2 separate regions of the Homo sapiens genome follow, and region 2 is linked to region 1. Evidence: fine-mapped expression QTL. A gene starts in region 1. The other region holds a variant in brackets. All regions are shown on one strand. Distances are between the middles of the regions.

What was found. PIP is the estimated chance that this variant, and not a neighbour inherited with it, causes the effect. A credible set is the group of variants that fine-mapping cannot tell apart.
Region 2: its variant is the best candidate, but not a certain one, in a credible set for the expression of LRRC27 in whole blood (Lepik 2017, PIP 0.58).

What each region holds. Positions count from the first base shown.
Region 1 is chr10:132,329,732-132,334,110 of GRCh38, forward strand. LRRC27 (leucine rich repeat containing 27) reads left to right here and starts at 2,462. Exons shown (of 11, transcript NM_030626.3): 1 at 2,462-2,525; 2 at 3,746-4,003. The coding sequence starts at 3,794. It also overlaps a transcript of STK32C not described here. RefSeq lists an enhancer at 1,745-2,279 and a silencer at 2,164-2,283.
Region 2 is chr10:132,351,638-132,355,946 of GRCh38, forward strand. It overlaps LRRC27 (leucine rich repeat containing 27), which reads left to right. Exons shown (of 11, transcript NM_030626.3): 7 at 1-116; 8 at 4,153-4,249. Among named protein-coding and RNA genes, the nearest start is that of LRRC27, 22 kb to the left of the region's middle. RefSeq lists an enhancer at 1,046-2,008. The variant C/A (reference allele first, on the strand shown) is at 2,361.

The sequences.
Region 1 (4,379 bases):
AACAAGAATTATGTCAGGGTGCAGAGGTGCCACGGGAGGACAGATGGCCGGGAAGGGCTGGGAACTGAAACTTAGCTATCTCAGGTGAGAAGACACGGCCAGCGCCAGGCAACACAGCCAAACCAACTTATACTCAGAAATACCACAGCGAAATTTCAGAACAAAGACATGAAAAGAGAAGATAGATTTCCTTCATGGAAGTAGCAATGCCACGGGCAGCAAACTTCTCGGCAGGGTAGCAGCAGTCGCTGCCCGGAGGAAGGTCCTAAAATCAAGACAGGAAATGACTCAACAAGGAACGCGGCACCAGCTCCACAGCCACTCAATAATCAGATCAACACGAACACTTCATTCGTTCCTACGTTGGGAGGCTCACCCAAGAATACTTGCCAAAAGGCTACCAATGGATACAATCTGGCTGGGCAAAAACTGAGCACAGTAAAGGGCAAAACATGCTCGTACATACAATTAACTACTGACTACAAAAATTAATGTAGCATGAAAAATGTGAAACAAAAACCTGAGGCAACAATAACAAGCAAGAGGGAATACGCTCAAATGGTTAGTAAATGTTTTATTTGTGAAAAGAGATACTGGAATGCTGAAACTTGTTAGAAATAGCATCGTGCTGAAATCTTCCATCCCCTTCGCCACTCACGGCAACACCCATGTCACTCCTCATTCTCTCCTTGCTCTGCCCGGGTGGCTGGCCTCCCCACGCTCCTGAGAAGGTACTGGTTGTGCTTTCAGCTTCCTGATTGGTAGATAGTTGGGTATGTACGAAAACTTTTTTTTTGAGACAGGGTCTCGCTGTCACCGAAGCTGACATTAAGTGGCACAATCATAACTCACTGCAGCCTCAAAATCCTAGGTTCAAGCGATCCTCTTGCCTCACCCTCCCACACAGCTGGAACTACAGGTGTGTGCCACCACACCCAGCATTTTTTTTTTTTTTTTTTTTTAATTTTTGTAGAGACTGGGTTGCCCAGGCTGGTCTCCAACTCCTGGCCTCAAGCGATCTTCCCACCCTGGCCTCCCAAAGTGCTAGGGTTACAGGCGTGAGCCATCGTGTCCGGCCTAAAAAACATTTCTTACTGTGATCTCTTCACAAAAATAAAACGTAAATCCCCTCAAAGTGGATAGTCGTTTCTCCACATAATTATGTCGTTTCCTTTAAAAAGTGGAATCAGGCCGGGCACGGTGGCTCATGCCTGTAATCCCAGCACTTTGGGAGGCCGAGGGGGGCGGATCATGAGGTCAGGAGATCGAGACCAGCCTGGCCAACATGATGAAACCCCGTCTCTACTAAAAATACAAAAATTAGCTGGACGTGGTGGCGCGCGCCTGTAGTCCCAGCTACTGGGGAGGCTGAGGCAGGAGAATTGCTTGAACCTGGGAGGCGGAGGTCGCAGTGGGCCGAGATCGCGCTACTGCACTCCAGCCTGGGAGACAAAGCAAGACTCCACCTCAAAAAAAAAAAAAAAAAAAAAAAAGTGAAATCATGGCAGACTCCAGCTAAACTGTCCGGGTTTCCAGAGTGTTTCTGGGTGGGACAGAGGGTGCTACTTTTCATTATCAGTTGGATCCTGGAATGAAGGTGCACGGGACTCCAGGGTTCCACAGGACCACGCGAGCACCTCCCCTCCCGCCCGGTGTCATTTCATCTTCTTCCAAATTCTCAAAACCCTTCCTCAGGACACTCACTGCGTTTCCTCGCCCCCCTCACTCCTCCGTCCAGAGGCAGCCTTACTTCTCCAAAGAGGACGCTCTGAGTCTGCGTTCCCCTGGCAGCAAGTCCTGAGGCAAGATTTGGGGACAAGCAGCTCCTGTGGGAAGTGGCTCCAGGAAGCCCCAGGAGAGACGCGGGGAGTGAGCCCAGCGGGAAGGACAGGCAGCGAGGACCGCTCCAAAGGTGGTGCCTCAGCAGCAATTCTTTTCTGCTCGGCTGTCCTCGAGCAGCCCCGCCCGCCCCGGGCCCTCCGGCTCCCCAGACGGCACTTAGCATCCCGCTCTCTTCCTTCCCCTCTGTGCCAGGCCGGTCGCCCCTCCAGACCCTCGCGGTCTCTACTTGCCCGTCGACCACCACCCCTTCAAGGCCGCGGGCGCGGAAAAACGGATGCTACCGTTGGCCGCGTGCGTGCGCAGGCGCACCACCCCCTGCCACCCCCGCGCAGGCGCACCACAACCCCCCCACCGCAAGCGCAACCCCCCGCCCCAGCGCAGGCGCACCACACCCCGCCCCCTCCCGGGCAGGCGCACCACACCCGACCCCCTGCCGCGCAGGGGCACCCACACCCCGCCCCCGCACGCAGGCACAAACCCCCACAACACGCACACCCCCGCGCGCAGGCGCACCACACCCCTCGCGCAGGCGCATCACAGACACACTCGCGCTCAGCGTGGCGCCTGCGGGATTCCGTACCGGCGTCTCCATGGCGACCGCGTTGGCTGGGTGGCCTCCATTGTCGGGCTGCTGCTCTCAGCGGCGGGGCTCGCCAGCGCTTCAGTGGGCGGGGACGCGGCAGGTGAGACGGGGCGGGTACGGCCAGCTCGCTGAGCCCTCGAGGCGGGCGGCGGCAGGAAGGTGGTGCCTCGGCCCGTCGTGCCCTGTCGCCTAGCTCCAGCCGCGATGCTGACCGCAAAGGCTGCCCTTCTGAGGCCTGGAATGTGAGGCCCAGAGCGTCGGACCCAACTCAGCCTCGCCCGGATGGGGAAATCGAGGCAGGGAGCGGGGGTGGGCGTGCGTGGGGATCCCTTGAAGGCAGCCTCGGAAACCCCACGGAGCCTGCGCTGCCTGGGCCCTGTGTGAGTCCAGGCTGTTGTTTCACTTCTGGTTTTAAGATACTTTCCCTGTTCTGAGGTTTGAAGCCTCCCCTCCTCTGTTTTAAGTTCCGTGATTCGGAGAAAACAAGTGAACTGACCGTGAAAAAGCCCGCGGGCTTCCATGGAATGCAGGCTGCCTGGGGTTGAACCCTGCTGGGTCCCGGTGTCGCCTCTACCCCCCAATTAACTGCGCCCCTGGAACAGTTCCCTAACTGATCTGCGCCTCATATGCCAATCATTGGGCTGTTGAGTGACTTGAATTAGGTGAACTGATGCATTCCAACGTTGATTCTTATTGCCGAATAAATTGTTTGGAAATTGCAAGTGGAAGTGTGCCTCGCTGAATGAGATTTTGGTGAACAATACTTCTGAGTAAAAGTGTTGCTGGACAACGAAAATTCGAGATTAATTTAACAGGTTTTTCCCCGGTGCTTAACTGGGTGTAAGCCAGACTTAGTTCTGGTCACTGGGTCAAAATGGTAAACAAAAGACAGGCTTCCTGGCCTCAAGAAACTAAAAACATAGTTCAAATGGCACAGAACCACACCAGAGGTAAGAAACAGTGCAAATTTCCACCCGCCCCTAGTCATTTCATGGAAGCGTTGCAGTTGATTTACAGGCTTTGAAATGTTCCGATCTGTTTACATCCCTAAAATGATCATTACTATTGTGCGCCTTTGCGTTTTCCAGGAGTTAAATCTTGGAACTCCATTGTACAAAGTGAGAGCAGAGAATTTTAATCTGAACCTCTTTGTATTCCTTTTTTTTTTTTTTACATGTTTAAAAGTCAAATTTTTGCTACTGCTTAGGAAAAATGATAGCTTTTAAAGCAAGTTACATTACAGTAGATCTGCCACACAGCTATTCTGTTTTGCCTCGGTATAATTAGTTGCTTCTACGTTTCCCTTTCCCGTGTCTCCAGGTGACTCCAGACCAAGGAGGATGAGCTGCTGTCCCTGGAAGAGAACGGATGGAGGGAAGCAGCTCCTACGAAGTTCCCTCTGTGGCTGCTGCTGATCTGGAGGAGGGTGCTGGTCAGACTAGGAGCTTGCCTGCCACCCCCTCCAAAGATGTTCACAAGGGTGTTGGAGGCATCATCTTTTCCTCCTCACCGATTTTAGACTTGAGTGAAAGTGGTCTGTGCCGTTTGGAGGAGGTCTTTAGAATCCCCAGCCTTCAAGTAAGTGGGGCTGCTCCTCAGGCTGTGTGCCCACAGGTCCCCTATAGACAGAAATGGGAATGTACCCCTGGGCTTTATTTGTAGGCTTCTTTCTCTTTGGAATTGATGAATTCTAAAATTAAATAGAGGAAAGGTTAACTCATAGTTTCATACGCCAATCACAACAAAATGGGAAATTCATGATGGGGACCAACCAATGGAAATAGTACATCTATTTAGATGAAGGTGTCTGTTCTCTTCCTTGCAGTTCATCTCTCAAAACCTGTGGTAGAAACTACTGCCAAACACGCTTGGTCTCTTAATTAAAACACAAAACCTTAAAGAAAATCAGGCAACATGAGCAGTTAAAAACTTTGTTCTCACCCATGATTTTGCT
Region 2 (4,309 bases), 22 kb after region 1:
CCCGACCTCTTGTCACCGTACCAAATGGCGATCCGAGCAAAAAGACTGGAAGAGAGCCGAGCGGCGGCGCTCCGAGAGCTCCAGGAGAAGCAGGCTCTGATGGAGCAGCAGAGACGGTGAGTCCACACAGGGTGGGGGTCCGCACAGCCCGCCCAGTGCACCCGGAACTGGGACTGGGCTGTGATTTTATGGCAGGCCTCGTGGAAGTGTTTAGTTAGTTCTCCCCTCACTGATGCTGATCCAGGATCCGTCTCTTCCTCACCTGGAAGCCGAGCTGCACGTGCCCCTTGTGGTCTGTAGCGCCACGCACGGGCTCGCTTGTTTGCAGCCCTGAGGCCTCCGTGTGGGGCAGGCGCAGGTGCAGCGCTCCGTGTGGGGCAGGCGCTGAGGCCTCCGTGTGGGGCAGGCGCTGAGGCCTCCGTGTGGGGCAGGCGCAGGTGCAGCGCTCCGTGTGGGGCAGATGCTGAGGCCTCCGTGTGGGGCAGGCGCTGAGGCCTCCGTGTGGGGCAGGCGCTGAGGCCTCCGTGTGGGGCAGGCGCTGAGGCCTCCGTGTGGGGCAGGCGCTGAGGCCTCCGTGTGGGGCAGGTGCAGCGCTCGTGGTCTGCAGGGCGTTGCGTGCATGGGCTCCCTTGTTTGTAGCCCCGAGGCCTCCGGGTGGGGCAGGCGCAGGTGCAGCGCTCCGTGTGGGGCAGGCGCTGAGGCCTCCGTGTGGGGCAGGTGCAGCGCTCGTGGTCTGCAGGGCGTTGCGTGCATGGGCTCCCTTGTTTGTAGCCCCGAGGCCTCCGTGTGGGGCAGGCGCAGGTGCAGCGCTCCGTGTGGGGCAGGCGCTGAGGCCTCCGTGTGGGGCAGGCGCTGAGGCCTCCGTGTGGGGCAGGCGCAGGTGCAGCGCTCCGTGTGGGGCAGATGCTGAGGCCTCCGTGTGGGGCAGGCGCTGAGGCCTCCGTGTGGGGCAGGCGCTGAGGCCTCCGTGTGGGGCAGGCGCAGGTGCAGCGCTCCGTGTGGGGCAGGCGCTGAGGCCTCCGTGTGGGGCAGGCGCTGAGGCCTCCATGTGGGGCAGGTGCAGCGCTCGTGGTCTGCAGGGCGTTGCGTGCATGGGCTCCCTTGTTTGCAGCCCCGAGGCCTCCCTGTGGGACAGGCCGGTTGCAGTGCTCGCGGTCGCCCCCTTGTGTCCGTCTTTGCCCTGGCTTCCTCACGACACCTGCCTGCTTTCTTGTTCTTTTCCCTCATTTCTTGTTCTTCCTCAGTCCTTTCCTCCTCATTTTCCCTAGAGTATTCCAGGCCCTGACACGGTCATCAGGGAGGTTCATTCTTGTGTTGCTGTGACTGCCGCCAGTGCCACCACCTTGCGAGGTGTGTTGGCCGATGGACTCGGTGTCCTCAGTGTCTTCTCTGTCCTCCAGCTCCACTGACCACCTGGCTTCACCCCTCCCTGGGCCCCAGGAGTCCGGCTGGCATGGACCACAGCCACAGCACCCCCGTGCCCCTCACTTGGTGGTTGGCTTTGGCCAGCGGGGGCCCCCAGCAGGAGGTCGAGGAGGAAGGGAGAGCGAGGGCCTCGTCTTTACTTTCCCGGCTTCTTTGTGAGCTGCCTGGAGCTGGCCGAGTCCAGCCTCTCCCTCCTTCTGGGTTCCGACAATCTCTCCTTCCCTGGTCTGTCCTGTGGGCGGCTGCAGCCCGGCCCTGACTGGCACAGGGCTCTTGCACCGCCCCTGTGGCTCACCTGCTCCCTCCCCAACATGAATAAACCCTCCTGAAGCCACCCCGTTGTGTGTGTGCTGTTTTCTCTCGGGACCATGTGATAGGGGCTGTGTCCAGCACACAGATTCTGTGATTGTCCACAGCTGTCACCCAATGTCCAGAGAGACATTGTAGTTGGTTGTCTTTTTCATTAAAAAGATGAATGAGGTGAAGTCCTCAGAACTGGTCCCCTGTCCCAGGCTGTCATACTGACGGGCAAGGATGAGGCTGACTGACCGCTCTAGGGCTGTCCTAGGACATGGGAGTGTGGTCCGGGCTGCACCAGAAAGCCCATCGCTGTGGGACCAGGTCTTGCTGGCCACGGGCCACAGCTGCTGGGGCCCAGGGAGCACCGGGAAGGCTTTCCTTTGGTGCCCATCAGTCGCCCCACACTGTCCCTCGGGGTAGCTCTACAGAGCCGGGCCCGTCACTCACTGCGAGGTGAGCCCCCCAGGACCGGCCCCGCCTGTCAAGCATGCCAGCTGCCCTCCCCTCACTGTGTGCCTCAGCAGGCATCTCCCTTCCCTTCCCTGCTGCAGGTGGGTCCCACTCCTGCCTCGGCTCTGCCAGTTTCAAGGTACCGTTTTCTGAAGTGGGTGTCCAGACACCTGCCCCCTTGACTC[C/A]TCAGGTATCACCTGCCCTGCCAGGAGGCTGCCTGTGGGAGTCCCACTCCCTCTTGGCCATGGCTGTGATGGAGGTGATTGTGATGAGACCTTCCGCAGGCACAGCCCCTGCCCCAGGCTCTCTGGGCACCACCAGCTGCAGGGGGCAGAAAGGGCACTCTTACCCCCAGACAACAGGCTCGGGCCTCGTCCCACACCTTCATGGAAGAGAAGTTCTTGGATACAAAGAGCAAGTGAACTCTTTCTTCTTTATTTTCCTGCCTGGAGCCCAGAGCCAGTGTCCTGCAGTCTCCTAGTGAGCAGCTCGGCAGGCCTATTCTGAGGGCCCAGACCCGGCACAGCCCCCTTCACATCACCCTGTGGACAGCGTCACCCCTTTGCTTCCCAAGGTGTGACCAGAAGACAGTGACACTAAGTGGAGGCCCTCGTCCAGGAGCGCAGCGGGGCCAGCACCACACATGGTGCTAAGTGGGGACACGGGGGGCACCACCCTGGCTGGGGCTGGGGGCTGGGGGCTGGGACACACCCAGGCAGGCGTCAGGACACAGCCTCACCTGAGGCAGCTGCTGAGACCACCTGTGCCCTGAGGTGGCACTGGGAGAGGACGCAGCCAGGCTCTGATCCCAGGCAGCACTGACTCGGGATGGAGCCCTCAGCAGGAAGGTGGTCAGAGGTGGGCCGTGGGCCGGGTAGAGCCCAGGAGGGCTGAGCCGCTGTGACCGCAAGGAAGGAGAGCAGAGGTCGGGTGGAGGCGTCGAGGAAAACCCGGCCTGGGGCCCAGGCGTCCAGGATGATGATGGGAGAAACAAGAGGAGGCCGGATCTGGGGGCAGGATGGAGAGGGGGTACCAACCACAGGAGTCCTGCAGGCTGGAGAGCTGGCCTTCCGGGGGTGGAGCCCTGGGCCTGAGCAAGGGCTCTTGGGGACCTCATTCCACCCCAGCCACACGCGAGGAGCCCCGCCCAGCCGCAGATGTGGGCGTTACTCGGGACGTTCGCAGCCCTGGGCGGCGAGCTGTGAGGAGGGAGCATGTGACTCTGGCTGCAGACTGCGGAGGCCCGAAGACGCCTGTTCTTGTCTTGTTTTGTTTTGTTTTTTGAGACAGTCTTGCTCCGTCACCCAGGCTGGAGTGCAGTGGCTCAATCTTGGCTCACTGCAACCTCTGCCTCCTGGGTTCAAGCAATTCTCCTGCCTCAGCCTCCCGAGTAGCTGGAACTAGAGGCGCCCACCACTACACCCGGCTAATTTTTTGTATTTTTAGTAGAGATGGGGTTTCACTGCGTTAGCCAGGATGGTCTCGATCTCCTGACCTCGTGATCCGCCCGCCTTGGCCAGATGCCTGTTTTTAAAAGTGAAATTCAAGTGTCTGAAGGGAGGGACTTAGAGACAGGCATTCAGATCTTCCATAGACCTTATGTCGACAAGTGCCCGCAGCCAGGCACCCCCAACCCGTCGTGCAGCGCCTGTGGTGGCAGCCCCAGCTGGTGCCCTTACCTGAAAGGGGTCCTGATGCCTTTTCCTCGGTCACTGGGTCGGGTTGGCCCCCAGCATCAGTCACTGCTGGCAGCACCGACACACAGAGCCTCGGGATAGAACCCGGCATTCCCGGCTCTGCCCAGATGTGCCGGGAGGAAGAGGCTGTGGTTCAGACTCCCACCCGGAGGGCATGCACGCCCCCAGCCTGTGCCCCCTGGAGACAGGTGCACCGCAAGGCTGTAGAATGACAGAGGAATCCTGTAGCCTTGGCTCGAAGCTGCCTGTAACTTATGACATTAACCTTCCCTTTCTCCAGAGAGAAAAGGGCACTGCAGGAGTGGAGAGAGCGAGCCCAGAGGATGAGGAAGAGGAAGGAAGAGCTCAGCAAACTCCTGCCTCCGCGGAGGAGCATGGTACGGCACGCGCGGGCGGTGACCGGGCACTAGTCCAGTCCCGGGGGTGGGTGGGTGCTC